5 separate regions of the Homo sapiens genome follow, and regions 2, 3, 4 and 5 are each linked to region 1. The links come from fine-mapping of genetic effects on gene expression. A gene starts in region 1. Each other region holds a variant in brackets. All regions are shown on one strand. Distances are from middle to middle.

Region 1 (6,226 bases):
ATGGAGTCAAGGGAAGGGAAAGTTATTTCTAGAAAGCTTGTTCCCCCTCACTGGACCAAACAACTCCTCCTTGTAGGAGACTCATTACTTTTGAAGTAATCCCACCACCTATCTGGTGGGAGAGCCATCCAAATGAGAAACTTAAAATAATCAGTTCTTGGTAGAGATTCATTATTTCTCCATTTTGTGCTTTAGGAGATTTTAGGTGTTGATTTTGTTTTATTTTAACTCATATCTTTAAAGGAATTCCCCAAAGAATGTTTATAGCTAACTTGGAATTTATAACCTCAGCTCTGGGATTTTTTTCTGAACGATTATTATCTAAAGGTGTGTTGTTGCCTTTAGGGTCATGCCATGCTTGTCTATGTCTGTTACCATGTCACTGTGGTCCTATGCCAAGTGCCCTTAGGGGGTCTCAATCTTTCCAACAGACCATGTTCGAGATAGTATGAGTCAATGTACAGTGTAGCCCACACTTGAGAGGATGAATATGTGTGCACTGTCCCTTTGCTCTGGATGGAAATAGGTTATTGTTGACTTATTTTTTCTGTGTTCCTACAGCCCCTTTTTCATATGTTGCTCAATTTCCCTTCCCCTTCTTGGTGCTTACACATCTCAGACCCTTTAGCCAAACCCTTGCTGATAACGGTATCTTGGTTCTCAGTTCTCACTGTTTCCTCTGGTCACGGAGACTTCAAATAAAAATGCACATAGCTATGGAGTGGGGTTTAGCTGGAAAAGGTGACCTTCTTCCAACTTCACGTCAACTTCTGGCTCCTCAAACAGTAGGTTGGCAGTTAGGCAGGGAAGTTGTTTTCCCATTTCTCACTGAGCAGATTGTGAATATTTCCATATGGATTTTCTATTATTAACATTACCCTGATTCTTTGTTTTAAAATAAAAATTCTGAATGTACGCACACAAAAAAACTCTAAATGTTCCATATATCTAATTTATGCTTACCTTTGGCTGTGGCATGAACCACAGCAGCCTGAGAGATAACCTGGTAAGTTTCAAAACCCAAATACGACAAAGCTGAGAGTAAAAGGCCTCTTTTGAAAGTTCCTGGGTTTCCCATTACCTATGGAAACAATTATGTTAAGAGTTACAAACTTTGAAAATTTGAAGGTACTGCTACCCCAAGCAAAAATTACATGAATTTTCTCCCACCCCCAAAGCAATCGATCATAATACTGGAAGCTTAAAAATTACTTCATCAAAATCTTTAGTAAAACTATCTCAAAGCGTATCTTATTGAGAAAAAGATATCCCCTGGAGTCGCCGCTCATCTAAAAATCACACTCCTGCTGGAAAGGAAGAGCTACAACTTATTTGCTACAACTTATTTGCAAATGCATGGATATTGCAAATTGTATGAAGTAAAATATGAGACACCAACACATAATAAAAATGAATCTTACAGACAAGATTATCATATATAGTAATTACTACATATAAAAATGTACATGGCTAACTTTTAAATTTTTTTGTAGAGACAGGGTCTCACTGTGTTGCCCAGGCTGGTTTCAAACCCCTGGACTCAAGCAATCCTTCCGCCTCGGCTTCCCAAAGTGCTGGGATTACAGGCTGAGCCAAGGGGCCAGGCCTAAAATGGGACTTCAAACTCATCATTGTTCCAATTTGAAAACTTACGGCTAACTAGTTTCATACTTAGAACTCCTCCCATCTCTCTGCCTATATTATCTATAACCTCCCCATTTGGTTATAAACTTCCAAGGAAGGGGAATATGCCAAATTTTAACCACCCCTCCCCACCATCAGTCCCATAATAATTCTGAAAGATTTTAACTGAGCAGTTAAAAATTTGAGTTTAAAATAATGAAACCCCTAGTTCATGTGAAATATATCATATGCATTAATGCCATTCCAATTCCCTGACAAGAATAAACAGAGGCCCACGAGCAGTCTAATAGAAATACCAGAACTGAGACTACAACATGCCGACAACCTTCATTGACGTTATGCAGATACAACGGGCAACTGAGAAATAAACATTTTTAAACAAAAACCTAAACAGTATGAAATCTCTGCTTCTGAGTCGTAGAACTTTTTAAATCACACACCACACTTTTCAAAGTCTGAAAGGGGCAGCCTCAAGCGCTGTTGTATCTGTCATCGCCTACAGGGAGAATAATTTCACAGCGGTCAAGGTTCTTTCCCGTCCTGTTTTACATTTCGCACAAGAAGGGCGGGTAGCAGGCAGCTTCTGGGGCGCGTGGGGGCAAACCCCACTCCTTCTCTGACAGCCCCAGTTAAGGATAGTGGAGGTTTGCAAAATGGAAGGGACCTGTCCGGGCGTTCCAGGCACAGTGGCCCCGAGTTCTTTCCTCGGTTCACCACATTCCTTAGGCAGCGCGGGGCCGCCACCACTTAAGTTAAGGGGGAGCCGGAACCCACTGAGTAGGAAGTGAGGAGCGGGAGCCAGGACCACGGGGGTACCTCGAAGCCGCGGAATCGACAGGGGCCGCAATGCCCGCGGCTGCCCGAAGTCCCCGCAGGGAGACGAGACCCCGGGGCGGCTCCACGTCGGAAAGGCAGAAGGCGCCACAGTCGAGCAGCCAGCGCCATGACCTGCAACTTGCGGGCTGACCCTGCACTACTTCAGGCAGCTACGGAGGCGGGCGGGGCTAAAGGAGATTCAATCCTTCCGGAAAGAACCGCGCCCGCCCGCCTCCTGCACAGCACCTCTTCCGCCTCCTGCCCAGCACCTCTTCCGCCCCCATGGTTTCCGGTGCACGGGCTTAGGGGGTGGGAAATACCCCGATTGGGTGGGACTTAATGGACTTTCCGCGCCTGCGTCCAGGACTGAGGCCGTGAGAGCGCTCTCTTCAGGCGCTCTGACTTGTTTCTGCTCCATCTCTCTAGGGGGTCTTTCATGGTTTGGGCACAAGGATTCGTCGCCAGAATAGAACTGAAAGCTCGGAAATAGACCCGAGAATACAAGTATGCCAGAAAAAAAATTGTCATTTTAATTATCTGCTGCCTTCAAAAGTAGATTGAATCTTGGTACTAGTGGGTCTTTTTTGGAAGTAAATAATTGGAAGAATTATGTTGCCCAACATGAAGAAGGGAAAGTCTCAGTCTCTTCGACTGAGCGACTCAAGGGGGTAGATTCAAGAGAGAGTCCAGAGCAAAGAAACAAAAAATGCAAAGCGTTTTGGGAAGAGGAACTAGCGGGAGGAGGCCTCTGGAAAGGATACTGATGCCCTTGAATGCTAGGGCATGTGTAGTAAAAAACAGAAACAAAAACAAACCCTGGTCTCCCCTAAAATTCTTCAATAAGATGTTTTACTTACTCGAGCAAAGTATTTTATTTTACTCGAGTAAAATAAAATTTCTTGCTCGAGTGGAATTCTTTTGTGGGAAAATGAAGAAATTTTGGATCCTACTTGAGGCCTGATCAGGGTGGGTGGAAACACAGACTGCAAAGGGAGTACCTACTATATGGGTTTAACGAAAAATCTTATGGGTAATAAGGGAGGCGAGTCATGGTTTTAAAAAATTAGGTTGCATTTCTATGGTACTTTTAATACTGTATAGGGAATTAATACATAGTCGTATTGATCTTCCGAACTACCTTGTGAAGTAAGTGGTATCCCAGGTTTACAAATGAAAAAACTGTAACTCAAAGAGATGTATTAACCTAACCAAGGATATGTTAGAAGACAGGAATCCATGTCTTTCTACTCTGAGTCCAGTGCTCCTTCTACTATATGATTGCTACCTCCACTAGTCCCATTAAATCAGCTGTATTTCTTTAGGATTATGTCTTTAAAGTCTATCTTTAAAAATATATAGATCTCCTTCCCAACTTCTGAAACCTAGCTGTTTTTTCCCAAAGACAGAATCACTTTTATTTTATGCATTTCTACTGGCAGCTACCCCCTCAACATTGCTAAATGTTTATGCCACTGGATACCATGATAACAGTGAAATTAAGTTTCTGATATCTCTGCTAGAGTGAATTTGTAATTAAGTTTTTAGCTTTGAAAAAAAAATTAGATCCTAAGAAAAGTTGCAGGAACTCCCATATATTCTTCAGCTAGATTCAGCCATTGTTACCTTTTTCTCACATTTGCTTTATCTTTCTTTACATATCTTACCTATAATACACATATTATATTCCTAGTATTTTCTGTTGTAAGGCCTTTTGAGAGTAGATTACAGATATCATGACTCTTCAGTCTTAGAAACAAGACATTCCCTTACTTAGTCCCAGTTTAATTATCAAATTCAGGAAACTGAAATTGACAGAATACTATTATTTAATATACAAATTTTGTTTAATTCCCAATACTGTCCTTTATACTAATGATTTTTTTTTCTAAATTCAAGATCAAATCTTGATAATGTCTTGCATTTGTTATGTTTCTACTTTCTTTAAATCTTTAAATCGTCAGCCTTGGTCTTTCACGACATTAGTATTTTTTAAATGTATAGTCCCATCGGTTTAAAGCAGGGTTTCTCAGCCTTGGCACAATTGAACTTTTGGGCTGAAGAACTCCTTCAGCCCGTCAGGCCATCAGATGATTGCAGCCTTGGCCAATATCTGACTGCAACATCAAGAGAGATGATGAGCCAGAAGCACCCAGCTAAGCCACTTCTAAATTCCTAAACCACAGAAGCTATGACAGATAATAAATGATTGTTCCTGTTTTAAGCCACTAAATTTGATGTAATCTGTTACACAGCAACTGATAACTAATATAACAGCCAAGTAAAGCATAGAGAGTTGGAGTGTGGAGTTTCAGAGGAAAGGTGTGGAAGTTTGATAACCTTAAGAATATAGGCTGGGCGTAGTGGCTCACACCTGTAATCCCAATATTTTGGGAGGCCAAATCGGGAGAACAGCTTGAGCCCAGGATGTTTGAGACCAGCCTGGGCAACACAGTGAGACTCTGTCTCTACAAAAACATGTTTTTCTTGTTGTTGTTTGTTTTTTGTTTTTGTTTTTGTTTTTTAATTTGCTGCATGTAGTGGTGCATGCTGTAGTCCCAGCTACTCAGGAGGATGAGCTGGGAGGATCATTTGAGCCCAAGTGTCCAAGGTTGCAGGGAGCGGTGATCACACCACTGCACTCCAGTCCAGGCAACAGAGTGAGACACCGTCTTTAAAAAAAAAAGAAAAGAAAATTAAAGAAGTTCGGGCACGGTGGCTCACGCCTGTAATCCCAGCACTTTGGGAGGCCAAAGCGGGCAGATCACGAGGTCAGGAGATCAAGACCATCCTGGCTAACACAGTGAAACCCCGTCTCTACTAAAAATACAAAAAATTAGCCGGGTGTGGTGGCGGGTGCCTGTAGTCCCAGCTACTCAGGAGGCTGAGTCAGGAGAATGGCGTGAACCCAGGAAGTGGAGCTTGCAGTGAGCCGAGATCGCACCACTGCACTCCAGCCTGGTGACAGAGCTAGACTCCGTCTCAAAGAAAAAAAAAAGAGAGAGAAAATATAGATGGAATTCAAAGCTCTGAGACTAAGGCTGGGCGTGGTGCCTCATGCCTGTAATCCCAGCACTTTGAGAGGCCAAGGCCAGTGGATTTCTTGAGCTCAGGAGTTTGACACCAGCCTGGGCAACATGGTGAAACCGCATCTCTACAAAAAGTACAAAAATTAGCCAGACACGGTGGCTCGTGCCTGTAGGTCCCAGCTACTGGCTGAGGTGGGAGGATCGCCTCAGGCTAAAGCCTGAGAGGTTGAAGCTGTGGTGAATCGTATTCGCACCACTGCATCCCAGCCTGGCTGGGTGACAGCAAGAACCTGTCTCTCAAAAAAAAAAAAAGAAAAAGAAAAAAAAAAGCTATAAGACAGGATGAGGTAATTAAAAATGTGACTGAAAGAGTGAAGGTAGAAATATGAGGATCAAAATACATAGGAGAAAGAATATTTTGTGAATATCTTTCATTTTAACATGCATTTAACTCTCCACCAGGTGGTGTTTTATTTCTAGAACCTTGTTAGGCTTGGTATCTAACATGAATTCAACACATGTTAAATTAATGGGTGAATGAATGAGAACAAAAGTAGAATGGGATTTAGACTGTAGTTAAGGAAAATGAATAAATACATTGAATAGCTATGGCACTATGTATTTAGATGATAGATTGCTGTTTGGATACTAAAAGTACAAAACCATCCCCTTGCCTCTACTCTTTCCCTATTTTAGTGTAAAGAAAAGTTTTGAAGGTTAGGTATGGATACTATATATTC
Region 2 (6,226 bases), 40 kb before region 1:
CTACTGTAGGGACCAAAACCCTGAACACCCGAATCCTAATCTAGCTACTCAGTGCTGTACCTCACAAAACGAAATGTTATTCCACCTTTGTAAACTGAAAAATAATAGTTATTTTAAGCATTTTTTAGTATTTTAAAATTTTTATCAGTTAATACCAGAATGGAATTGAGTATGGCAAGATTGAAAAAGTGTCATTTTAGAAGAGTTTATATATGTGGTTAGATTATTTGAAAAGACAAAGAAACATATATATTTGTTAATTGACTGTCTCTACCCCAGAATGTAAATTCCATGAAGACAGGGATTTTAGTTTTCTTCACTGTATCACTAGCTTATCAGTTATATAAAAAATTCTCGGTAAATGACTGATGAATGAGTGACTGAGTGGATGAAAGAAATGGACTCTTATCCTAAGAGAAGTTAAGAGGACTCATGACACATGTAACAGGAATAGTAAAAAGAAAATGGATTTTTTTTTTTTTTTAAATTTGTCTTTATCCATATTGCTACACTTATTATTTGTAATTCCATTTTCCTCTTGGAGATGTTAAAATAGTTTTTATATGTAAGTCTTAAATTTAGATTACTCTAAATACTTCTGGCAAAATTTTAACATATATAGTATACATATATCCATTCAGCATTTCTATGTGCTTTGAAAAGTATTCTATTAGATTTTTTTCATTTTATTGAAAACATCTGATTTTGTTTTTGTTTCTGTTCAGTTTTAATCGCTTGGATCTACCACCATATAAGAGTTATGAACAACTAAAGGAAAAACTTCTTTTTGCAATAGAAGAGACAGAGGGATTTGGACAAGAATGAATGTGGCTTCTTATTTTGGAGGAGCTCTTGCATTTAAATACCCCAGCCAAGAAAAATTGCACAGATAGTGTATATAAGCTGTTCATTCTGTACAGTGAATTTTCCGAACCTCTCAAAGTATGTTTTCCGTTCTTCCACAGAAATATGCAAAACAGTTCATCCTTTTCTACTTTATTTATTGTTCCCTTGAAATGACTGACCAGGAAAAAGATCATCCTTAAATTTTGAAGCAAGTGAGAGACTTTATTAAAAATACATATATATCTATATAAACATATATGATAGTGGCTCTAGTTTTATAGAGCTCCAAGTGTATTAAACATGACAGCCATTCATTCATAAAGATCTGGATTTGCTTTACCTTGTTAATATTATCTAGGGGAAAAAGTGCAAATTGCTCCATGTTCTTCTCTCCCTTATGTAACATCTCCTGAGGGTGTTTAGTTGCATGGCTGTTCAGAAAGGTATTAAGGGCTTAGGCCAAATCTTACTTTGAGTATGTTAAAAAAAAAAAAATGCTGCTGGCTTTTCTGAAGACAGGTGCTTGAACTTGTCAGTTTGTTTTAAATAAATACAATAGTTGAAAATTTTTCTCTGTTACATCAGTAATATTGTTAAAGTAATGGATAGAACCATAACTTACACATGAAAGTCATATACTAGATCCAATACTATTTAGTTTATTATCGAAATTGGAAGGATTCATTGAGCAGCATAGAAGTTTGTTTACATGTTACTTTGAGATGCTAGGTATTTGTGGAATTAAAAAGAATCAGGCTCTTTTGTACTTTGTTTTTAAATCTGTGATGCTTTTCAAATTTAATTCATAATAAATTGATGCAATTTCATACTTAGGAACATACAAAAGGTAATGTAAACTCTGCCACTTTTTTGTGTTCAAAATTTTGGTTTTTATGAAGCCAGATGGATTGAAGAGTTACATAAGCATTTGAATGCTCTAATATAAGGCTAATGATTTTCTGTTAGTGTTTGAATATCTTCATTCCTCTCAAATTCATAACAGTTCTATTTAACTGAATTAAATAACCATATGAAAAATCTTTTGGGTCTCCCCCTTTTTACACAGATAATTATTTTTGTCATAACACTTTTTAATTGTTTTTCATCATAGGGGCCTTTGCTGAACTACAAAAATGTGTAACAAATTAAAATCTGATGTGAATGATATTAATGCTACTTTTAGCAAACTGGGCTTCCTAATACAAAATTTTAAATTTCCATTTGTATCATGCTTTTAATATGCACTGTAAATTTCATTAACTTAAACATTTTTTAATAGCCATGGAACTGACTTCTTAAAATCTGTTGCCTATAAATATTTCACTGCTAAGTACATACAGAAAAACAGTAATTATTGTTTTGCCAAAATTTTATTTTTCTACATATTGAGAGTGTGTTCTCCATTTTATTCAGAATTCATAGTAAAGACGAAAGAAAGGCAGAGATCTGCTTGGTTGAATAGACTCCTTTTCCAAATCCTTATTATGAACACTCTGGTAATTTTCAAGCCTAAAGAATTAAAAAAAAAATTCTAATGTATGTGACAGGTTATGTGATAGAGGGAAACTGGCCTTCAAAAAGGACTGCGTATACCATAAAAGAGTTAAGTATTAGAATTACAAATGGTACCACTGCTGTATAAATTTTGCCATGACAGAAGTTATTGAATATCATTCATTGTAGGTATGATTTAGCAGATTTGACTGAAGAAGGCAGCTTTCCAGTTCGTTTTCAGGGTGCTGGTCTCCCTCAAGTAAGAAATTACGATGCACTAGGTGAGGCTACACAGAACCCTACAAGAGACAAAACCAGCTTTGTTTTGGAGAATTCATCAGGGTCTTCCACTTTTCATACCCAATTATAGATATCCAAGACCTACAGGCAGAGCTCTTGATTTATCTACCCAGTAGCAGTCAGAAAAACTGTAGAAATATGGTCCCCCACTCACCTTCTCCCCTTCTTCCCTTCCCATTCCTGTTCTGTGCTGGACTAACCGAAAGAAATTAGGAGTGCAAGACTCTCTGTGCCCAAAACACAGTTCATGAGGAAACAGACAAGAGGGAGGCTCAGAGACAGGTTTATATTGCTACTTCATTTTGGTGACTCCCCCACCCCCACCACCAGTAAATGGCCCAGGGAATAGCTCACAGGCCCAA[T/C]ACAATTCTGTCTGTTAGATCAGTTAAGCAACACAATTCTATCTGTTAGATCAGTTTAGTTGTTTGTCTTCCAGGGAAAGCAGCTTACCAGTGTTTTTTTTGTTTGTTTGTCCCGCCCCCCCCATGTACTTCCCAAGTAGTTGAAAATGAAAAGGTTAACAAAACCTTTTCCCCTGATGACTTCTGTTAACTACCTAGCTCTTCCTACCCTGACAACTAAATAGGATGGTATGTGTCAACTGTATTTATTGCCATGCAGCTTTGCTTTTGGTAAATATGACCCTGACTGGTAAGTTGCATCTGGACTGGGAAATCTCCAGATACACGACAGAAAGCCACAGCTTTGGGCATACCTGAGTGGAAAACTCTTGTAACTGTATGTCCTTTAAGGAGGACCGTGAGCTGTCACCTGGGGAGATACCATTTCATAGATTGCTGTTAGAAGACCGTCTTCTGAGAGGAGGTTCAAAATTGTCCTGCTGGTGAGCTGTGTGGTTCCTGTCCTATAGCCTTCTGAGTAGACTGGTGCCAAATACAGCCTATTGTAGACTTATTAAGTCTGAATGTTTGGTTGAACCTAAGATGATGTGGTGGATGTTGCAGAAGTAAAAATCTTCCTCTGTTGAAATAATACACAACTAAAAGTTCTCCTGTAACACTCAGTTGGCCTTAAAAGCCAAGCTTTAGGTCAACTGAGGATTTGATCTAAGTCCAAAAGTGACATCTCCTATATTCCAAAATTTCTCTCCTCAATTCTCAACCAAGAACAAAATCAGAGATAATAGTAGTTGTATTTACTGGTATTCATGGTAAATCCTTTACATAAATTATTCTCTTGATCCTTACAATTCCATGAAATTGGTGGGGTTGTCTTTAATGATGCTTATTTTATACATGAGGAAAGTGAGTATGAGAGAAGCCATTTTTACAACACCCACAGCTAGTACACAGCCCATGATTAAAAACTCAGTTGAGATAACTTGGCCATCAAGAAATTGAGAGCTTTTAGGTTCTTATAGAATCACGGCCATTTTCCAAAATCAGTATTCTACTCATATCCTCAAAAGGAAGGAAGGAAACATCTATAATGGAGAGATATAGCCTATGTATGTAATAACACTTAGAACACAGAGTACTACCAACTTACTTTGATATACATGTACGTGGGGAAATAAGCATCTCAATCCAGCAGTCAGCTCTGGAATCCACACAAGAACAATCAGGTGGGGGCTGCACGGGAAGGAGAATGTAAGGGATTCCTGGGGTTTGTTCTCAGTAATGGGTCTCACCCTTAGTGGGGAAACGTCACGGACCAATGTGACACGTGGGGAATCAGGCTCCTGGGAAGTCAAATGGAAGAGACTTAGTGCACAGAATCAGAATCTTGGGAAGGCACCATGTCTTGCAGAAGAAACCTAACCCTCAGAGAGTAAAGGGGAAAAATGAAGATAAAAGGACCCAGGAGCCACACTCCTGGGCATGTATCCCAGAGAGATAAAATCTATGTAGACATAAAAACCTGCATATAATGCTCATAGCAGCTTTATTTGTAATAGCTAAAAATCAGGAATAACCTAAATGCCCCTCAGCATATGGTTGATATGGTATGCCCATAAAATGAAATACTAGTCAACTGTAAAAAGAAACAAACTATTGATAGAACTTAGGTCTCAAGGGAATTATGTTGAGTGAAAAAAAGTATCACAGGGTCTCACTGTATGATTCCATTTGTATAACATTGTTGAAATAACAAAATTATGGAGAACAGATTAGTGCTGTCAGAGTTAGGGATGGGTGGGGGAGAGGAGGAGGTAGATGGGTGTGACTGTAAAGGGACAGCACTGGGGATCTTTGTGATGACGGAACAGGTCTGTATCTTGATTATGGTGGCAGTTACCAAAAATCTACATGTGATAGAATTGCATACAACTATACACACAAGAGCATTTAAAAGTGGTAAAATTTAAATATAAGGTCTGTGGTCTGTACCAATGTCAGTTTCCAGGTTTTGCTATTGTACTACAGGTTATATGAGATGTTAGCACTGGGATAGGCTGAGAGAAAGGTACACAGGATCTTTTTTTTTTTTTTTTCAATTTGTGAATCTATGATTTTTTGAAAGTAAAAATATTTTTTAAAGTTCTAATAAGGAATCAGGAGGTAAGACCTCCATAAAAAGCTTTATTATTGAATGATACCTGATCTCACAAAAAACAAACAACTAAGCAGAAAATATTCTTGAACTAACCCAGACCCTTTCTTCCCATTTGATGACCTAGTATTGCTGGTAACTCAACATAAAATTACATCCCTAGGGAAAAAAAATAAAGTCACTCTAAAGAGAAATTGAAAATGAGAAAAAGGAGAGTAAACTTTAACACAATATGCTAATATGAATTAAATTATTAGATATTTAAAAAATCTGAAATAGCAACTTAAAAACTCAGAACTGGACAAACAAAATGCAGATGTGAATGACTGGCTAAAATCAGGAAAAAAATTCGGAGAAAAAGACAAACACATATCAGATGTGAAGGCAATTATAAAGTATCTAAGGAAGAAGAGATACAACCAAATGTAAAATAAGGGATATGGAAGATATAAATGAAAAGAGCCAAGAAAATGAAACAAAAAGGCTAAAAGAAAAATCAGTAAGTGATAAATGTGAAAGTCAGGCAAAGATCTAATAGAACTAATTTGAGTCCTGGAAATAAGTTGGAACAGCGGTTCTCAAAGTGTGGTCAATTAGACCAATCTGGAATGCGAGAGAATCTATGACAACCGGACTGGCCTATTCAAAAAGTCAATGTTGCAAGAAGAAAAAGATGGGGAACTGTTGTGGATGGAAAGATTAGCAACAAATCAAATGCAATGTATAATCTTTGGATCCTGATTTTAGAAAGCATGAGACATCTTGGGGACATTTGAGAAAATTTGAATATGGGTAGATATTAGATGATGTTAGAGAACTGTTAACTTCTCCAGTTGTGATAATGGTTTTGTGTTTGTTTAGGAAGATGTCTTTATTCTGAGAAAATGCATGCTGACACATTTGGGGTGAACTATTATGATGCTTGCAATCAGTTTCAAAAGGTTTAGAAATGTATGTGTCTATACACACACAAACACACATGTATAAATACAGGTTGAACATCCCTATTTCCAAAAATCTGAAACCTGAAATTCGTGCTCCATAATTCAAAACTTTCTGAGCACCAAAATGA
Region 3 (6,226 bases), 130 kb before region 1:
CCCTCCTGGGTTCAAGTGATTCTCCTGCATCAGCCTCCCAAATAGCTGAGATTACAGGTGCATGCCAGCATTCCTGTCTAATTTTTTTTTTTTTTTTTGTATTTTCAGTAGATACGGGGTTTCACCGTGTTGGCCAGGCTGGTCTCGAACTCCTGACCACAGGTGATCCGCCTGCCTCGGCCTCCCAGAGTGCTGGGATTACAGGCTGAGCCACCACGCCCAGGCTTTTCTTTTCTTTTTAAAAACAGTAAGTACTCAGATTAAGACCCCTCTAATATTGCAGTCTGGCTGTTTATTGTCTGTAAACCGAGGTTCTCTGCCCTAAGCCAATTTTTTTTTTTTATTTTTAGCATATTTACTCTTATCCTCATTTCTGTTCTTAACCCTTATCTGATTGGCAGCAACATGTAAGAATAAGAGCATTGATCATGGAACGCGGAAAAACTGATGGAAAAAATCAAACAGAAAACTACCTATTGTCATATAGTAATATACTGTAATGTACCAGCTACTCAAGGATAGTAGCATATAGAAGTGTATTATCTTCGATATTTTAGATTTTAGACTTTCAACAGGAAACTGTCAGAAGCATAGAGTATGCAAGATGTATAAAGGATGAGATTGAAGAAAAAATGGGCTGTTGTATTCATGTTTATAATTTTTTTTTAGCTATTGTGTCTTCTAAAGCATTTTCACTTTTTAAAGTAAAAGTGTCAAATCATATACCACTTATTTTTGTATGAGTGGTGTGAATTATAGACTTCATTCTTTTCAAATGTTTCAAAATTTATGGTCTCATCTATCTTCCCATTGATTTGAAATGCCACTGTTATGCATTAGTATCTTGCTTTTCTCTTTACTTCTCTTTTACATCACTGTCAAACCATTTTAATTATTTTCACTTTATGGTACTTTTTAAAAAAATATTTTGAGAAATTTCCTTTTATTACTTTGCATTTTAAAATACACGTTTACTGTTCTTGATTTTTCTTTGGCTTTTATTTGAATATTTAAGTCTCCCTTCCTTTTCCTCTGCCCCCACCAAAAACACTCAAAACCAATCAGTTGGTGTTTTTATTTTAAAATAATGTATTAAATTGGAGCTAATTGAAATATTTCAATGTTAAACTTTTCAAATCTAGGAATATATCATATCATTTTTTTTAAGCCTTTGTTTCCATTGGTAAAGTTTTATAGTTCTCTTCATGTGACTCTTACTTATTTCTTAAGTTTATTACTAGATTTTTTGAAGGGATGTTATTGTGAGTGGGATTTTTGAGTTAACTCTCCCTACCCTCTCACAGGTGACTCATTTTCTGATAGTTTAAAAATACTTATATAACCTTAGAGTGGAGGACATTCTGTGTATAACACCAAAGGAAACTCATTAAATGAGAAAAAAAATCTATATATTCTACTAACTAGAACAACTTTTTGAATTAATAAGGTTGTCTTCTAGTTATTTAAAATCACATTATTTATATGTACATTTTGCTAGCATATTTATAAATTCCTCATGAGATTAAAGATTATTATCTTTGAAAAATCTCTTTTCTTACCTTACCCTCTAGTATTGTTGAGTATTTTGCCAAGTAAGGGTATTCAGTGGACGTATTTTGGATGGATCTGTAATGAACTCAGAGAAGAGTTAATACTATATAGTCAGTAATAATAGAGTAACAGCTACCATTGTTGGATGCCAGACATTCATTGATGGTGATAGTGCCTTGCATGCCTTCACTCACCAATCCTAAGAATCAGGTACTGCTGTTCTTCTGATTTTTCAAGTAAGGGATGGAGAAATTAATTGACTTACTGTGGTCAGGCTTTTAGTAAGTGGCACATTTGAAAAATGAACCCAGATATGTCTATCCCTCTGCTTTTAACACCATCATATACTGACTTTTCCTTCTTCCAGTCTTCTGCTATATGGATAAGACTTACATATACTGAGGAAATATATGAGCACTTTTATTCAAAGAATCTTGGGAAGTTTCTTGGGAGAGAGCAAGTCTGGGCCTTCTATATTAGTCCAGTGGCGCTGAACTTAGAGCAGTTTGGAACGATGAAGGATGGAAATGAGTTTTGCTAAGACCCTGGTAGTAGCAGTTCAGACATAACATTGAACACTCTTTAATTGCTATGTTGCCGGTACTTAAATATAGTATTTGCTTGGAATCTTGCATTTATCACATTGTATTTCAGTGATTTATTTGTGTGACTATTTAGATTATTATTCTCTCACAATAGAATGGAAGCTTACATAGCTTTGGTTGTTTTTATATCCTTAACATCCGGTGTGTATGACATGAAAGAGGCTTTTCCCTTCCTCATCTCTGATCTAGGGTGTTCACAGGTAATTGATTATAGAGGTGATCTTGATAAGTTGTTCTTACTGCCTGTTCATCAGTATTTTGCCCAGAAAGTAGATAGTCCCTGATTTCTTCATATCTCAGGTATATTAGATTTTCACTTTCTGGAAGGGGTTATGATTAACTTTTATAATGACATTTTGATTTTTAAGCTTTTATTTGAAAATGCAAATACTACTTCTTTTCGAAGCTAACTTTCCAGATAAAACATTAAAGCATTTTTTTAAGTGCCACAGTTATGTAATTTCAGAAAGACAAGTTAATAGTACCTGGCAGGGATGTTAATGGGCATGTTGAATCTGAAGACACTTTTCCCTTGATCTTTAATGCAGTTGTTGGTGAGAATGTGGAGAAATCAGTGTATATTGTTGATAGGAATATAAAATGGTGCAGCCACTTTGGAAAATAGCCTGGCAGTTACTCAACAGAGGGTTATCACATGAGCCAGGAGTTCTACTCCAAAGTATATGCCCAAGAGAAATGAAAACATACGTCCACAAAAAAGCCTGTGCACAAATGTTCATAACAGCTTTATGCACAATAGCCACAAAGTGGAAGCAGTTCATATATTTATCAGTTAATAGATAAAATGTCATATACCCATATAATAGAATGGTATTTGGCAAGAAAAGGAGTGGAGTACTGGTGCATGTTACAATATGGATGAACCTCAAAAATGTAATGCTGAGTGAAAGAAGCCAGTCACAAAAAAAACCCACATTATATGATTCCATCTATATGAAATGTCCAGAATAGGCAAATTTAAAGAGACAGAGAGTAGGTTAGTGGCTGCCTAGGGATGGGGGTGGGGAGAGGGTTGATTGGGAGGAGAAAGAAGGGGGTGACTGCTTAATGGTATGGAGTTTATTTTTATGGTAACAAAACTGTTTTAAAATTGATTGTGGTGATGGTTGTGCCACTCTGAATATAGTGAAACCATTGAATTGTACAGTTTAAGTGGGTGAATTATATGATATGTGAATGATAGCTCACTAAAACTGTTACAGAAACATTCAAATGGCTCTCAAGCATTATCAGTAGCCCTTTTGTATTGTTTCTTCATTCTGCCAACGAGAAGAGTTCTAGTTGCACAAGAAGCACAATTCCATTCTTATTGATTGATTAGTGTGCAGTACTACTTTTTGGCAACACATACTCACTAGTGAATTATTTGTCTGTTAGTTTCTAGTGCCAAACTTAAAAGAAAAAAGAACTGGTTCGGAACAGCAATATATACAGAAGTAGTTGTAGATGGAGAAATTACGAAAACAGCAAAATCCAGTAGTTCTTCTAATCCAAAATGGGATGAACAGCTAACTGTGTAAGTACCTTGTGTAAAGGACGGAAAATCTTCACAAGAAAGTGTATTTTTTGGAATATGTTTTTTGTTTTGTA[A/G]AATGACTTCAAAGTAATGAGTGATTTTTTTAAAGTGTGGATCGACAATTTAAAGTATGGAGAAATTTTTGGTTAAATTTTTTTTTTAAGGGGAGGATGCATAATAATGCTTGCTTTTGCTTTATAAACCAAATTATTTCCATTTTCTCTGACTGTTTTGGTACAGAAATAAATAGGACTGCAAATTAGTCATTCTTAATTTTGGCATTTCAAAATAATAATGGCATAAATTTGTGTATAGTAAAAGTATCATGTAAGTCTTTAGACATTTGTTCAAATACAAACAGTGTTACTATGAAGTCTCAGTAAGACTCCTGTGTTGGTGTTTTGGCTTGCTGATTCCAAAAATCCTCATCTAGTTATTAAAGTCCTAATGTATTTGAAAGTAAAATATTTTTATTTATGATTCAAGTAGTTTCCTGTTTCATACAATATTTCTTCTCAAATAAATGAAATTCACGGTTTTTAAAACATTACTGAAATAAATGCTTTAATAGGAATTGTTACTTATTAATAGAATGACAACGTCTACTCCTGTATTTTTGTTAATAATTTTACCCTTCCAGAAATGTTACGCCACAGACTACATTGGAATTTCAAGTTTGGAGCCATCGCACTTTAAAAGCAGATGCTTTATTAGGAAAAGCAACGATAGATTTGAAACAAGCTCTGTTGATACACAATAGAAAATGTAAGTTTTTTGTTCTGACCTTTATTTCCTTATAAGTTTATTTTAGACACTTTGAACATATCCTGAATCCTAAAAGCAAAAACATAGTTTTGTATCCATAAAGAACTTCAGTTATTGCTTGTGATTGATTAACTTTGTGGCATTTTATGAAATAGGAAATATTTACCATGGCCTTTCTGCATTCTGCAGATTTACAAGGTAATCTCAGTCATCCACAAGTACCCTATTATCAGTGACTATCAGTCATTTATTATTTGCTTATTATTATATTCTTTAAAACTTGAGAAAATTATCATTACATGACCCTACTCTATTTTGTCACTTGACTACTAACAATTTTATTTGGGTAAAATAAATTGTAACTCTTAAGTTTTCTTTTATTATTATATAATTAGTTTATTGTAAAAAACATGAAGAAGATAGACAATTATAGAGTAATATAAAAATTTTCTATAATTTTACTATCCAAGGATAACCAATCTTAATAATTTGGTCACTGTCCTTTTGTTTTTCATAGACACAAACATATTTCTTTTTTGCTTTGCATCTACTAGTTTATCCTCTGCTTTCTAGAAATTTAACAATATACCATAAATATTAAGTTTCCATGATACTTTTTCTAGACTGGGATTTTAAGGTAGTTTAGAGTTTAATTATTTGTAAACCTCCTATCATATGCAAAAATATGGGGGTATGTACATATATGTGTAATTCTGGGGAGAGGGTTCATAGCTTTTATCAGATTCTCAAAATGTGTGATCCTCTGAATATTAAAAACCAGGGTTCTAGCTGGGGGTGGTGGCTCATGCCTGTAATCCCAGTACTTTGGGAGGCCAGGGTGGGCAGATCACTTGAGATCAGAAGTTCAAGACCAGTCTGACCAACATGGTGAAACCTCGCCTCTACTAAAAGTACAAAAATTAGCTGAATGTGGTGGCATGTGCCTGTTGTCCCAGCTACTTGGGAGGCTGAGGCAGGAGAATCGCTTGAACCCGGGAGGTGGAGGTTGCAGTGAGCCAAGATTGCACCACTGCACTCCCAGCCTGGGCGACAGGGTGAGACTCCATCTCAAACCCGCAAAAAACCAGGGTTCTAGTTTATGATTTTTAAATACCATGTAATGATTTCTCACACCACAATTTATTTAGTTTCCCGTTGTCTGACACTTAAGTAGCTTGTAACAGTTCACTAAAAATAGGCTCTTGCTCAAATCTGTAAATATTTTTGCTCTTCTTATTTCTGTAGAGATTCTCTTATTAATTCCTAAAAGTAGGTTTGCTGAATGAAGTAAGGGATGAAATGCTGATGATGAAAATAGCAAGTTATCTTTAAAAAGGTTCTTTCTGCAAATCCACATGTAACTTAAAGATCTGTTTTGATCTAGTTTTTGGAAATAAGTGAGTTATGAGTTAAGAAAATATAATTATGGATTATAATAATTAGAACTAGTAATTAGTAGTTAGTATAAACCATAATAATTTTTATATATTTGGCTTAAAACTTTTTCTTTTTCTTAAAGCATTGTAAGTTTGATTCTCTGCTATGCCATGGCATTTTTTTTTTTCTCAATGAGTCATGCAATTCATCTTGATACAGGAAGAAGTAATAGATTTTATAAGTATACAGTACCTTGCCTGGATTATTATTATTTAACCATATTCCCATTGTTGGACATCTAGATTGTTTTCAATTCTGTTATGTTAGACTCTACTGAACCTCCATATAAAGATAACTATCCACTTATCTGCCAAATGATCTTCTAGGAAGG
Region 4 (6,226 bases), 98 kb before region 1:
TACAGAATAGTTTTACTACTCTAAAATTTGTTTCATTTGTTTATCCCTCAAACCCTTTGCAACAGCTGTTTTTAAATACTGGCTCTATAGTTTTGTCCTTTCCAGGATGCTACATAGTTGGAGTCCTACAGTGTGGGTAGCCTTTTCAGATTGGCTTCTTTCACTTAGCAAGGTGCATTTAAGGTTTCTCCATGTTTTTTGTGGCTTGACTTCTCATTTCTTTTTATCACTAAATACTCACTTATTATAAAGGCTCCTTGGTTACTTCAGTTTTTTACAATTGTGAAAAACATTGCTATATACATTTGTGTGCAGGCTCTTACGTGAATATAAGTCTTCAATTCAGTTGGATTGAGGAGTGAGACTGGTGGGTTGTATTTTTAAAGTATGTTTACTTTTGTAACAAACGGCCAAACTGTCTTCCAAAGTGGCTGTACTCCTGCATTCCCACTGCAGTGAATGAGAATTCCTAGTGCTTTGCATCTCACCAACATTTGCATTTCAAGGAGAGTTGTTTATTGTTTATTATTATTTTAACAATACTGAATCTTCCCATTGAGAGATATTTTATGTCTGTATTCATTCTTTTTAGTAATGTTTTTTAAAGTGTTTTCTTCACGCTGGTTGTGCAGTGGCTTACGCCTGTAATCCCAGCATTTTGGGAGGCCCAGGCTGGGGAATCACTTGAGGTCAGGAGTTCGAGTCCAGCCTGGGCAACATAATGAAATCCTAAAAATGCAAAAAAATTTAGCCGGGTGTGGTGACGCATGCCTATAATCCCTGCTACTTGGGAGGCTGGGGCAGGAGAATTGCTTGAACCTGGGGTGCTGAGGTTTCAGTGAGCTGAGATCGCGCTACTGCACTCCAACCTGGGTGACAGAGCAAGACTCTGTCTCAAAAAAAAAAAAATTTTTTTTCTTCGGATAGGTCTTGAAGTAATCTTGTTGTTGATCTTGTGTCTGTTCATTTTGCTGAAATGTTTTAGCTCCAATTAATTGGTTCTAATGGGGTTTTTAAAAAAATTTTCTTGTGTATTCTAAATAAATAATCTATTTGTCATTTTCACTACAAATGAGTTTTACCATATTCTTTCCAATGTTGTTATGACTTTTCTTAATGGATTGTCAAATATAATCAATACTGAATTGGCTTGGTAATTGTGATCTTCCTTGTTTTGTTGCTGATTTTAATTTATTCTTTTTCTTTTTCTTTCTTTTTTTTTTTTTTTTTTTTTTCTTCAGACGGAGTCTTGCTCTTTTGCCCAGGTTGGAGTACAGTGGCGTGATCCTGGCTCACTGCAACCTCTACCTCCCGGATTCAAGCAATACTTCTGCCTCAGCCTCCTGAGTAGCTGGGATTACAGGCACACAACCACCACACCCAGCTAATTTTCCTATTTTTTGGTAGAGACAGGGTTTCACCGTGTTGGTCAGGGTGGTCTCAAACTCCTGACCTCGTGATCCACCCGCCTCGGCCTCCCAAAGTGCTGGGATTACAGGCGTGAGCCACTGTGCCCAGCCCTGATTTTACTTTATTCTTGATCTTAATAGAAGTTCTTACAATAGGCTGGGCACAGTGGCTCATGCCTGTAATCCCAGAACTTTGGGAGGCCAAGTTGGGTGGATCATTTGAGGTCAGGAGTTCAAGACTGGCCTGGCCAACAAGGTGAAAGCCCATCTCTACCAAAAAATAGGAAAACTAACCAGGCGTGGTGGCGGGTGCCTGTAATCCCGGCTACTGGGGGGCTGAGGAAGGAGAACCGTTTGAACCCGGGAGGTGGAGGTTGCAGTGAGCTGTGATTGTGCCACTGCACTCCAGTCTGGGCCACAGAGCGAGACACCTTCTCAAAAAAAAAAGTTCTTAAAATGTTTTACAATTATTGTATATTAATGACTGTAGGTTTGTGATAGATAATCTAGATTACTTCTTAATTTTTCATGATTCTTCTTATCAGGCATTTTACCAAGATTTTCTTGAATGCTTTTGGTTTGTTTTGAAAATAATCATATGACGTTTATCCTTTAATCTGCTAACAGTAGATTTTCTAATGTAGTTTCCTAATATCAAATCATCCTTGAATTTATACATGATGTTAGTCTATAGTCTTCTTGTTCTGTTGTTGTTCAGTTTCAGCTTTGAAAGTTTACATTACCTTCCCAGAATAAGTTAGGACACTCCTTTTCACTTTTTCTCCCCTAATGTGTTATAACACCTTAAATAACATAAGAATGATCTATCCAATAAAGGCTTCATAGAATTTTCTCAAAAACCTTTCTGAGCCTGGAGCCTTTAGGAGGGATGATATTAGAACTTTCATCACCTTTTCCATTGCTGCTCTGATTTGTCTTTTTTTCTTTCCCTTGAGTTAGTTTAGCTAATTTCAAACTCATTGATATGAAATTGTACGTGGTATTTCTAATGTTATTTATATTAAACATGTTTTCTTTATAACACTTGGAAAGGTATATTTCATGGTTTCTCCAGCTTTCCTGAGTAAAAAAATCATATGCATTTGTTAAAAATGCAGATCCCCAGGTTCTTCCCTAGAGATTTCCCCTAGAGATTCAGTAAGTCTAGGATGAGGACTTAGATACTATATTTTCAGTAAGTTCTGGAGTCTTATCAGGTGCATTAGGAAATTCTGATCTTTTTTTTGGGTCTTTTGACCAAAATTCATTTTCTTCTACTTA[C/CT]TTTTTTTTTTTTTTTCTGTATCTGGAATGAATTCTAAGCTCTTTTGTTACCATTCTTTCTTACATCTTTAGGTACTTCTTTGGCCATGTCCAGTAGCATTTAATCTGAGTGTTTTCTTTTTGTCATTAATTCTCCTAAAATTTGTGATTATGTCTCCCTCTGCCATTTCCATTAGAACTTTGATATATGGTCTTCCAGTAGGTTTTGTTCTGTAATCTATTCACCCTTACAGTTTTAATTTGACTCATTTTTATAGTGACACGTAGTCGAACTAGATCAATCACACTTAAAATGAAAATTAGGAAAACTGTGTCACTGGATTGCAGTACTGGGTTATTTCTTGAAAAAGTGTAGAATGGGTTCTTGCAACCCCTATAGTACTATCTTAAGAACTGATGCCATCATACAGTTCCTACTATTGGCAAAACAGTTCGTTTGATGTTAGCTACCACTTACACAAGGGAAGGGCGATTGAAAGGGATCATTTTTCAGAGTTTAGATGGCCCATACAGACTTCCTCTCAGAATTGATGATTTGGAGGGAAAACACTGGTTATCTTAATGCTGGTTCCTCTCTCCTTAAGGTTGTTATTATTATACATACTTAAATTTTTATCATTTACATATTCATCCCTGAAATTTTGAGCAACAAAAATAAAATCTCCATTTTATTTTATGTTACATATTTTGAAAATATTACTTTGTCTGCTGTTTGGAGAATGGATTGTAGTTGCTTAGTCTGGATTAGGCTCTGAATAAGTGTAGTCAATTGATTAGGTAATTGATTGCTTTATCATTACTTGATAGATGATTTTATTAATTTTCCCTTCTCAGTTAATGGAGAATCATCCTCATTTGCACCAACTGATAATGCGTCTGTCACGGGTACTCCAGTAGTGTCTGAAGAAAATGCCTTGTCTCCAAATTGCACTAGTACTACTGTTGAAGATCCTCCAGTTCAAGAAATACTGACTTCCTCAGAAAACAATGAATGTATTCCTTCTACCAGTGCAGAATTGGAATCTGAAGCTAGAAGTATATTAGAGCCTGACACCTCTAATTCTAGAAGTAGTTCTGCTTTTGAAGCAGCCAAATCAAGACAGCCAGATGGGTGTATGGATCCTGTACGGCAGCAGTCTGGGAATGCCAACACAGAAACCTTGCCATCAGGGTATGTTAAGCTTTTTAATGTCTGACTTGCATTTAAGTAGCAACTCTGTTAACATACGATTATTGAATGTGTGCATAAAATGTTTTCATTGTTCAGAACTTTGAAATCTAAGTTGGGATCTGAATCATACTATTTATTTACTTGCTACAAAACAAGTACTTTTTGAAACTAAGAACAATTGCTCATCTGGTTGACATATATGTAGTACGAAGGGAAAAGAAAAAACCTGATGTTAATTAGCAAGACCCTCTTAATTTGATTCTTGGTTTATTTCTACTTTTCGTAAGAGTGACCATGATACTCCATATAATATCCTCAGTTCTCTGGCATCCTTGGTGATCTGTTTTCCAGACCTCATACTGGAGAGCAAATAGCTCTTCTTTTCCTCAGCTAATATTGAGTGCTGGGGAGTCACAAACCTTGCTGATTGGCTCTATTAAAAATGCAGTTTTTCATTGCTGGTTAGTAATTCTTAATCTCTTTTAAGTTTCTCATTATAATTACTCAACTTCCCATGATTTTCTTTAAAGAGTATTCTATATGTGTATTCCATTCGGTAATTTCTTTGACCTTTGGCACTGATAATACTAATATTAATTAATGATTAATTGTCTCTGCCTTCAAGAAGCTTATTTAGTGATTCACAGTTGTAAACGTGTACAGTATATACAGTACAGTCAGAAAGTATATATGGACACGTGCTTTCCAACACAGTTTACAGTGATCAGAATGTCAACTGTTGTAGCTATTGAAACTGCACTTCTAGATGTCTCTACACTATTGTCTTCATTTTGTTACCTCAGTCACTATGTTAGTGTACGTTGGTTTTTTTTTTGGAATTGTTTTTTTTTTTCTCAGTGCCCTTTACTGGCTCGTCTGATGTTGTCCACTGCTTAATTACGGTTTCAGCCTTTGGTCTTCCTTTGTGTGCTTACCCCAGTAGATCTAGCACTCTCCATTATTATTATTTTGGAGCAGAGTTTCATTCTTGTTGGCCAGGCTAGAGTGCAATGGCACGATCTTGGCTCACTGCAACTTCCGCCTCCCAGGTTCAAGTGAGTCTGCTGCCTTAGCCTCCCAAGTGGCTGGGATTAGAGGCACCCGCCACTATGCCCAGCTAATTTTTGTATTTTTAGTAGAGACGGGGTTTTTCCATGTTGGTCAGGCTGGTCTCGAACTCCTGACCTCATGATCCACCCGCCTTGCTTCCCAAAGTGCTGGGATTACAGGTGTGAGCCACCATGCCTGGCCAGCTCTCCATCATTTTAACTATTAAATCTATATGTTCAGGCCAGACTTTTCTTTGAGCTTATTTTCAACTACTTTTCCCTCTTCTGTTTCCTGGAAATGTTTCAGACCCTATATTAGCTTTCCTTTCCCTCTCAAAAATCTCTTGTCCTGTGTCCCATGTTTGGTAAATTAGTCAATTATCCTAGTCTCTCATGTGCCAGTCACTGTGGCAAAGACATATAAGAAGCTGTTCTTACTGTCAAGAACCTCATCGTCTAAGTGGTGGGGGAGGGGAAGAGAAGTAGACAATCAGCCAGCATACAGTACAATTAAAGCTATGCCAGAGGTAAGTTTAGGATGCCATGACAAGGAATACATGCAGAGAAGGAATGGGAGGAGTTACCTGCGCCGTTGACGTCAAAGAATACTTTCGAAAGCTATGACACGTCAGTGGATTCTGAAAGAAGAGGAGGAGTTAGCAAATAGTGGAGGCACGAGTGGTGAAAATTTCATTTTCAGTAGAGCCGACTGCACATTCAGATTCCTAGCACCCATGAAAATGAGTATGCTGAACCCAGGAATTATTATTTTGTTATAGTTTGAGTTCAGCATTTGAGGCAGCAAGATATATAATGCTGAAGAGAAAACAGCCCTGTGAAGAATTTTGTGTGATTTCGAAGGGTTTGGAAGTTTTTTCTGAAAACCACGAATAAGCATTAAAGAATGTAAAGCAGGGGAGTGGCATAATCCTCTTTGCTTTTATTAAGATCATTTTTGCAGTGGTATAGACAGCTGAGGAGTTAAGGAGTTGGGATAGCAGCCAGGCTGTTTTATAAATGAGGGAAGCCGGCATTCCAGTTCAAAACAGTAAGTACATAAACCTAATTCTGTTGAGACCAGATAAATGCTTCAGCAGACTTGTTGTCACCACTTATGATCTTTGTATTAGAATTTTGCAGTAATCTATATTAGTGTTTTTCAAATTGTAGAGTGCAACCCGTTAATAGGTTATGACCAGCATTTGAACACATAATGAAATAAAGAAATATAGGCGAGAATAGGAAATATTGGAAGATGTTAAATGTAGTAAGAATAAGCATTGTTTCCTGAAAGTTTGTTTTTCTGTGTGTGTGTG
Region 5 (6,226 bases), 87 kb before region 1:
CAAAACACTGAAAATACTAATATAGATTGTTCTCTAACAAAACAGTCCCATTATTATCACTCTTTAATTAATCCACAATCCACAAGCCCCACCCAGGCACATAAAACTCCCAGTCAGTTTTCAGTGCCCTTCTCATTAGATATCTGAGGGAAACCTCTTAATTTGAAAGATAGAGATCAAAAAAACAACCTAGAAAATACTGTTTTAAGATATCAGACTAGGGCTGGGCGCGGTGGCTCCCGTCTGTAATCCCAGCACTTTGGGAGGCCTGGGCACGCAGATCACTTGGTCAGGAGTTCAAGACCAGCTTGGCCAATATGGTAAAACCCTGTCTCTACTAAAAATACAAAAATTAGCCAGGCATGGTGGCACGCGCCTGTAGTCCCAGCTACTCAGAAGGCTGAGGCAGAAGAATCGCTTGAACCTGGGAGACGGAGGTTGCAGTGAGCTGAGATCACACCACTGCAGTCCAGCTTGGGTGACAGAGCGAGATTCCATCTCAAAAAACAAAAGATAACAGACTATTTTAATATCCTCTGAGGGATAAAAGTAGATACAACATACATACAACAAGAACCCAATGCTATAAAAATGGAATACTCAAAGGACTAAAAAACTCTTGGAAATTTAATTCAGTGTGAAATTTGACTGATAAAGGTAAAGAAATTTGCCAGACAGTAACACATAAGGACCAGTTCAGACAGTCTGATAAGAAAAGTTCTAGAAAGAGAGAAAATGGGAGGAAGTCCTTAACAAAATAACAAACACAAATTTCTTTATTGAAGAATAAACACAAATTTCTTCATTGAAAAGACTCACTAAAAATCCAGGATGATAAATGAAAACAGATCTATTTTAAGACAATTTGTTGTGAAAATTTTAGTACATTGGGGCCAATTAAATTCTAAATATTTTCAGCGATTGAAAAAGCAGGTTTCATAATAATCAGAATGGCATCAGATTTCCTAGAATCAACACGAAAAGCTAGAAGACAGTGGAAGAGAGTGGGTCCATGCCTTAAATGCTGAAGGAAATTATGCCCAACATATAATTCTGTATCCAGCCACACTGTTTAGTGTTTGCATAGAATAAATACATTCTATGCATATCCTAGGTTTCCAAAAGTTCACTTCTTATGTCTTCTTTCTTAGAAAGCTACTAGGACTTGTGTTTTCCCAAAACTGGGTAGTGAAAGTAAAAGACGTTGGAGGCAGGAATTAGAGGGTCTGCTAGGAGAGGAGTGAAAGGAATGCCGCACAATGATAAAGGAAAGCCCAAACTGGCCTCAGACAGCACTCACTCTAGACTAGAAGCTAATCAGAAGGCAGGTGCAATCATAGAACAGCTAATGAGCTTGAACGTTTTAAGAGGAGATTTATGCAACTGGAAAAGTATTTGGGGTTTAACGATAAGAATGTAGACAATAAGCAAATGGAAGTGGAGATAATTTTTCTAGCTAATAGTATTTTTTAAAAAAAGAAATTGGGGTATGTTCCATGGCTCATCTGTGGGGAGAGTTTACATAGTCATAATGATAACTGTAAGGGAAGGTACAACATATGTGTATATTTGGAATGGTTGGGAGGAGGGTAAGTGTAGATGTGTATGTGTGCAGGAAAGAGACCTGCAGCTTCACCTTTCCTAATAAAAAGTCAATACATTATGTTTGAAATTAAACAAATCACAATAAGTCAAGGAAGTTAATAAGTAAAAGAAGTAAATACCAAAAAAATGGACTGAAACAGTTGAAAATGTTGCCTTGGGGAGTGGAAAATGAAGTGAAAGAGACAGTAGGTACTGTTGTTTTTTGCAATAAGTCTCACAGACTGTATGACTCTGTTTATGTGAAGGTATATATAATTATATAGCTATGAAGGTATATTTTAAACTATCTGAAAGTATATGTAATTTTGATAAAAAATTAAAGCTAAATTAAAAATAGTAAAGGATATTTGTGAAGAAACAGTTGAAACCAGGAAATTTTGCTGTAGGACAGCAATAAAAATTCAAGGACTGCTTATGGGAATTATTACCTAAAAATAGCAAAAGTGAAACTTGATCAGGTTTTTAGGTATTCATTTGGTTTTGGTAGTTAAGCTTTCATACAGAATAGCCCATTGTTACATGTTAGACATATTCCTGACAGGCCTTTAAAATGAAATTTTATATTTAACTCCTTCTTTCCCGTGAGCTTTTTATATAAACAAATAAAGTAAATCATAACTTTCAGATTGTCTGATTTTAGTGAAATGCTTTATAAGAAATATCTAAGTTTTTACAGTACTGAATATCATGAGTGTTCCAGTGTAGGATATAATAGGCAAGTTTAATAATTTTTGTGATCCCGAGTCAGTTCTGAACTTGGGAATCTTTATGGTTACTACTTAAGCATTTTGTGACTTAGGTTTGTTAGATGCAGGCTAAACAATTTTTTAAATTTTTTGTGTGCATTTGTCATTTTAAGTATGTATGTGTTTATGGGTGCAAACTAGGGAGTAGTTTCAGTATATATGGTTATCGTGTATAAAAATAATTTAAAGAAAATAAGCACTCTTAATAAAAAAATAAATTTAATTGGGTTCTTTTTTGGGGGGGTTCTCCCAGATTGATTTAATATTTGAAAATAGGCCGGGCATGGTGGCTCACGCCTGTAATCTCAGCACTTTGGGAGGCCGAGGCGGAAGGATCACGAGGTCAGCAGTTTGAGACCATTCTGGCTAACACGGTGAAACCCCGTCTCTACTAAAAATACAAAAAATTAGCTGGGCGTGGTGGCTGGCGCCTATAGTCCCAGCTACTTGGGAGGCTGAGACAGGAGAATGGTGTGAACCCGGGAGGCGGAGCTTACATGAGCCAAGATTGCGCCACTGCATTCCAGCCTGGGGGACAGAGCGAGACGCCATCTCAAAAAAAAAAA[A/T]TTTTTTTTGAAAATATAAATTTACCATATTAACAAATAATCGGGAAAAGCTATTTGATCCTCTCTCAAAATTTTGCAGATGGGGAAGGGAGGTAGAAGGAAAGAGTGCTGGATTCTTTATGGGAGATCCTTGAGCCTCCCTCTTGGTGCAGGACAACTTATCAAAACTCACCATTCCAAGTTAGGGCTTCTTGATAAGCACTCACATTTAAAAACAGAATCTTTTATTGTGAAACATCACACATACACAGAAAAGTACTTTCCTTCAAAATATATAGATGAAACTGATTTATCACAAAATACACATTTGTAACCATCACACAAGTCAAGAAAGAGAACATTGTCAGCACCCCAGGAATACTCTCTCATGTCGCTTCCGAAACACTGCCTTCTCGAGTTCTTGTGTTTAAGAAAAAGGAAAATATTTTCTGGTTATTGTATTTTAAAATTGAAAACTAGTGTCTTAAACTCAGAAGTACCAGTTTGTATTTATTTATTTATTTATTTATTTATTTATTTATTTATTTATATTTTATTTTATATTTTTAAGACAGAGTCTTGCCCTGTCACCCAGGCTGGAGTGCGGTGCAATCTTGGCTCACTGCAACCTCTACCTCCTGGGTTCAAGCAGTTATCGTGCATCAGCATACCGAGTAGCTTGGATTACAGGAGTGTGTGCCACCATGGCTGGCTAATTTTTTTTTTTCTTTGGGATTTTTAGTAGAGATGGGGTTTCTCCATGTTGGTCAGGCTGGTCTTGAGCTCCTGACCTCAGGTGATTCACCCTCCTTAGCCTCCCAAAGTGCTGGGATTACAGGTGTGAGCCACCACGCCCGGCCCACCAGTTTTTATTTTTAAAAATTATTCTTCTTTACCATATTAAGAAGACTAAAGAGAAATTAACGGGAATCACAGAAGAAAAAATGAGAATGGGAGAAACAAGAGATTGAGAGTCTTCAAAATAGAATAGGAAAAAGATAAAAACGTCATTTCCATAAATTCAGAGACCTACCAAAACCAGAACCAAAATTAGGATAGATATGCACAATGAAAAGATACTGTGCACACAGATGAAAGAATTTTCATGGGGCAGTATCACCACATATTTCTTTAAGGCGATTTCTGCTAAAAATCTTTTAGATGGGTACTTTTGAAATTATAGCAAAATCAGTATATTATTTCATAGACACTTTGTGCCTTGGATTTAATATTAAGTTGAAGGTTTCTTCATTTTTTTTTTTTTTTTGGAAACTGAAAATTAGTGTTTATTGAATACCTAAAATGTATTCAGACAAAAATAGACTAGAACTAATTAGCATAATTATTGTAATCCTAGATAAATATCAAATGTCAGAAAAAGGGTAATTTTTATTTTTATTTATTTATTTATTTTATTTATTTATTTTTTTAATTGATCATTCTTGGGTGTTTCTCCCAGAGGGGGATTTGGCAGGGTCACAGGACAATAGTGGAGGGAAGGTCAGCAGATAAACAAGTGAACAAAGGTCTCTGGTTTTCCTAGGCAGAGGACCCTGCGGCCTTCCACAGTGTTTGTGTCCCTGGGTACTTGAGATTAGGGAGTGGTGATGACTCTTAAGGAGTATGCTGCCTTCAAGCATCTGTTTAACAAAGCACATCTTGCACTGCCCTTAATCCATTTAACCCTGAGTGGACACAGCACATGTTTCAGAGAGCACAGGGTTGGGGGCAAGGTCATAGATCAACAGCATCCCAAGGCAGAAGAGTCTTTCTTAGTACAGAACAAAATGGAGTCTCCTATGTCTACTTCTTTCTACACAGACACAGCAACAATCTGATTTCTCTATCTTTTCCCCACATTTCCCCCTTTTCTATTCCACAAAACCGCCATCATCATCATGGCCCGTTCTCAATGAGCTGTTTGGTACACTTCCCAGACGGGGTGGCGGCCGGGCAGAGGGGCTCCTCACTTCCCAGAAGGGGCGGCCGGGCAGAGGCGCCCCCCCCCCACCTCCCGGACGGGGCGGCGGCTGGGCAGAGGCGCCCCCCACCTCCCTCCCGGACGGGGCGGCTGGCCGGGCGGGGGCTGCCCCCCACCTCCCTCCCAGATGGGGCGGCTGGCCGGGCGGGGGCTGCCCCCATAAGCGCTAACTTAAGTTAGCGCTTATGGGGCTGCCCCCCACCTCCCTCCCGGACGGGGCAGCTGCCGGGCGGAGACGCTCCTCACTTCCCAGACGGGGCGGCTGCCGGGCGGAGGGGCTCCTCACTTCTCAGATGGGGCGGCTGCCAGGCAGAGGGGCTCCTCACTTCTCAGATGGGGCGGCCGGGCAGAGACACTCCTCACCTCCCAGACTGGGTCACGGCTCGGCAGAGGCGCTCCTCACATCCCAGACGGGGCGGCGGGGCAGAGGCGCTCCCCACATCTCAGACGATGGGCGGCCAGGCAGAGACACTCCTCACTTCCTGGACAGGATGGCGGCCGGGAAGAGGCGCTCCTCACTTCCCAGACTGGGCAGCCGGGCAGAGGGGCTCCTCACATCCCAGACGATGGGCGGCCAGGCAGAGACGCTCCTCACTTCCCAGACGGGGTGGCGGCCGGGCAGAGGCTGCAATCTCGGCACTTTGGGAGGCCAAGGCAGGCGGCTGGGAGGTGGAGGTTGTAGCTAGCCGAGATCACGCCACTGCACTCCAGCCTGGGCACCATTGAGCACTGAGTGAACGAGACTCCGTCTGCAATCCCGGCACCTCGGGAGGCTGAGGCTGGCAGATCACTCGCCGTTAGGAGCTGGAGACCAGCCCGGCCAACACAGTGAAACCCCGTCTCCACCAAAAAAATACGAAAACCAGTCAGGCATGGCGGCGCACGACTGCAATCGCAGGCACTCGGCAGGCTGAGGCGGGAGAATCAGGCAGGGAGGTTGCAGTGAGCCGAGATGGCAGCGGTACAGTCCAGCTTCGGCTTGGCATCAGAGGGAGAGCGTGGAAAGAGAGGGAGAGGGAGACTGTGGGGAGAGGGAGAGGGAGGGGGAGGGGAGGGGAGGGGGAGGGGGAGGGGAGGGGAGAGGGAGAGGTTTCTTAATTCTTGATTCAATTTCTGTTTTCTGATAATTTGGAATTCTGTAAGTAACTTTTTAAAATGTGGGGTATTCTCTTCCTTTTCTGCTAACTATACTTTGAGTTTCCAATACTGTAATAAAAAGGGAATAATTAAGAGGTTAAAAAAGTACTAATAATTGAGAAAATGAACACTTCTGTATATATATATAATAGCCTTTATATATATAGCTGTGTGTGTGTATAGTCTTTTAATGTAAAGCTTATCTGTAATTT

Alleles and levels. Alleles are on the strand shown, and positions count from the first base shown. SD is a standard deviation of normalised expression in the study named. Not every link is listed here.
For the expression in CD4 T cells of the gene that starts at base 2,655 in region 1, allele C in region 2 goes with a higher level than allele T (moderate effect, 0.74 SD a copy in BLUEPRINT).
In carriers of allele CT in region 4, the expression in monocytes of the gene that starts at base 2,655 in region 1 tends to be lower than with C alone (large effect, 1.1 SD a copy in Schmiedel 2018).

The links. PIP is the estimated chance that this variant, and not a neighbour inherited with it, causes the effect.
Region 2: its variant is the best candidate, but not a certain one, in a credible set for the expression of RMDN1 in CD4 T cells (BLUEPRINT, PIP 0.74).
Region 3: its variant is the best candidate, but not a certain one, in a credible set for the expression of RMDN1 in whole blood (INTERVAL, PIP 0.78).
Region 4: its variant is the best candidate, but not a certain one, in a credible set for the expression of RMDN1 in monocytes (Schmiedel 2018, PIP 0.59).
Region 5: its variant is the best candidate, but not a certain one, in a credible set for the expression of RMDN1 in lung (TOPMed, PIP 0.61).

What each region holds. Positions count from the first base shown.
Region 1 is chr8:86,506,032-86,512,257 of GRCh38, forward strand. RMDN1 (regulator of microtubule dynamics 1) reads right to left here and starts at 2,655. Exons shown (of 10, transcript NM_016033.3): 1 at 2,461-2,655; 2 at 964-1,081. The coding sequence starts at 2,589. It also overlaps the pseudogene SLC2A3P4. RefSeq lists an enhancer at 2,400-2,569.
Region 2 is chr8:86,466,069-86,472,294 of GRCh38, forward strand. WWP1 (WW domain containing E3 ubiquitin protein ligase 1) reads left to right here. Exons shown (of 25, transcript NM_007013.4): 25 at 726-2,435. The coding sequence ends at 825. It also overlaps a transcript of RMDN1 not described here. Among named protein-coding and RNA genes, the nearest start is that of RMDN1, 40 kb to the right of the region's middle. The variant T/C (reference allele first, on the strand shown) is at 3,003.
Region 3 is chr8:86,377,172-86,383,397 of GRCh38, forward strand. It overlaps WWP1 (WW domain containing E3 ubiquitin protein ligase 1), which reads left to right. Exons shown (of 25, transcript NM_007013.4): 4 at 3,555-3,693; 5 at 4,334-4,458. Among named protein-coding and RNA genes, the nearest start is that of WWP1-AS1, 36 kb to the left of the region's middle. The variant A/G (reference allele first, on the strand shown) is at 3,768.
Region 4 is chr8:86,408,014-86,414,239 of GRCh38, forward strand. WWP1 (WW domain containing E3 ubiquitin protein ligase 1) reads left to right here. Exons shown (of 25, transcript NM_007013.4): 9 at 3,525-3,861. Among named protein-coding and RNA genes, the nearest start is that of WWP1-AS1, 67 kb to the left of the region's middle. The variant C/CT (reference allele first, on the strand shown) is at 2,691.
Region 5 is chr8:86,418,917-86,425,142 of GRCh38, forward strand. The region is part of intron 9 of WWP1 (WW domain containing E3 ubiquitin protein ligase 1); the gene reads left to right. Among named protein-coding and RNA genes, the nearest start is that of WWP1-AS1, 78 kb to the left of the region's middle. The variant A/T (reference allele first, on the strand shown) is at 2,918.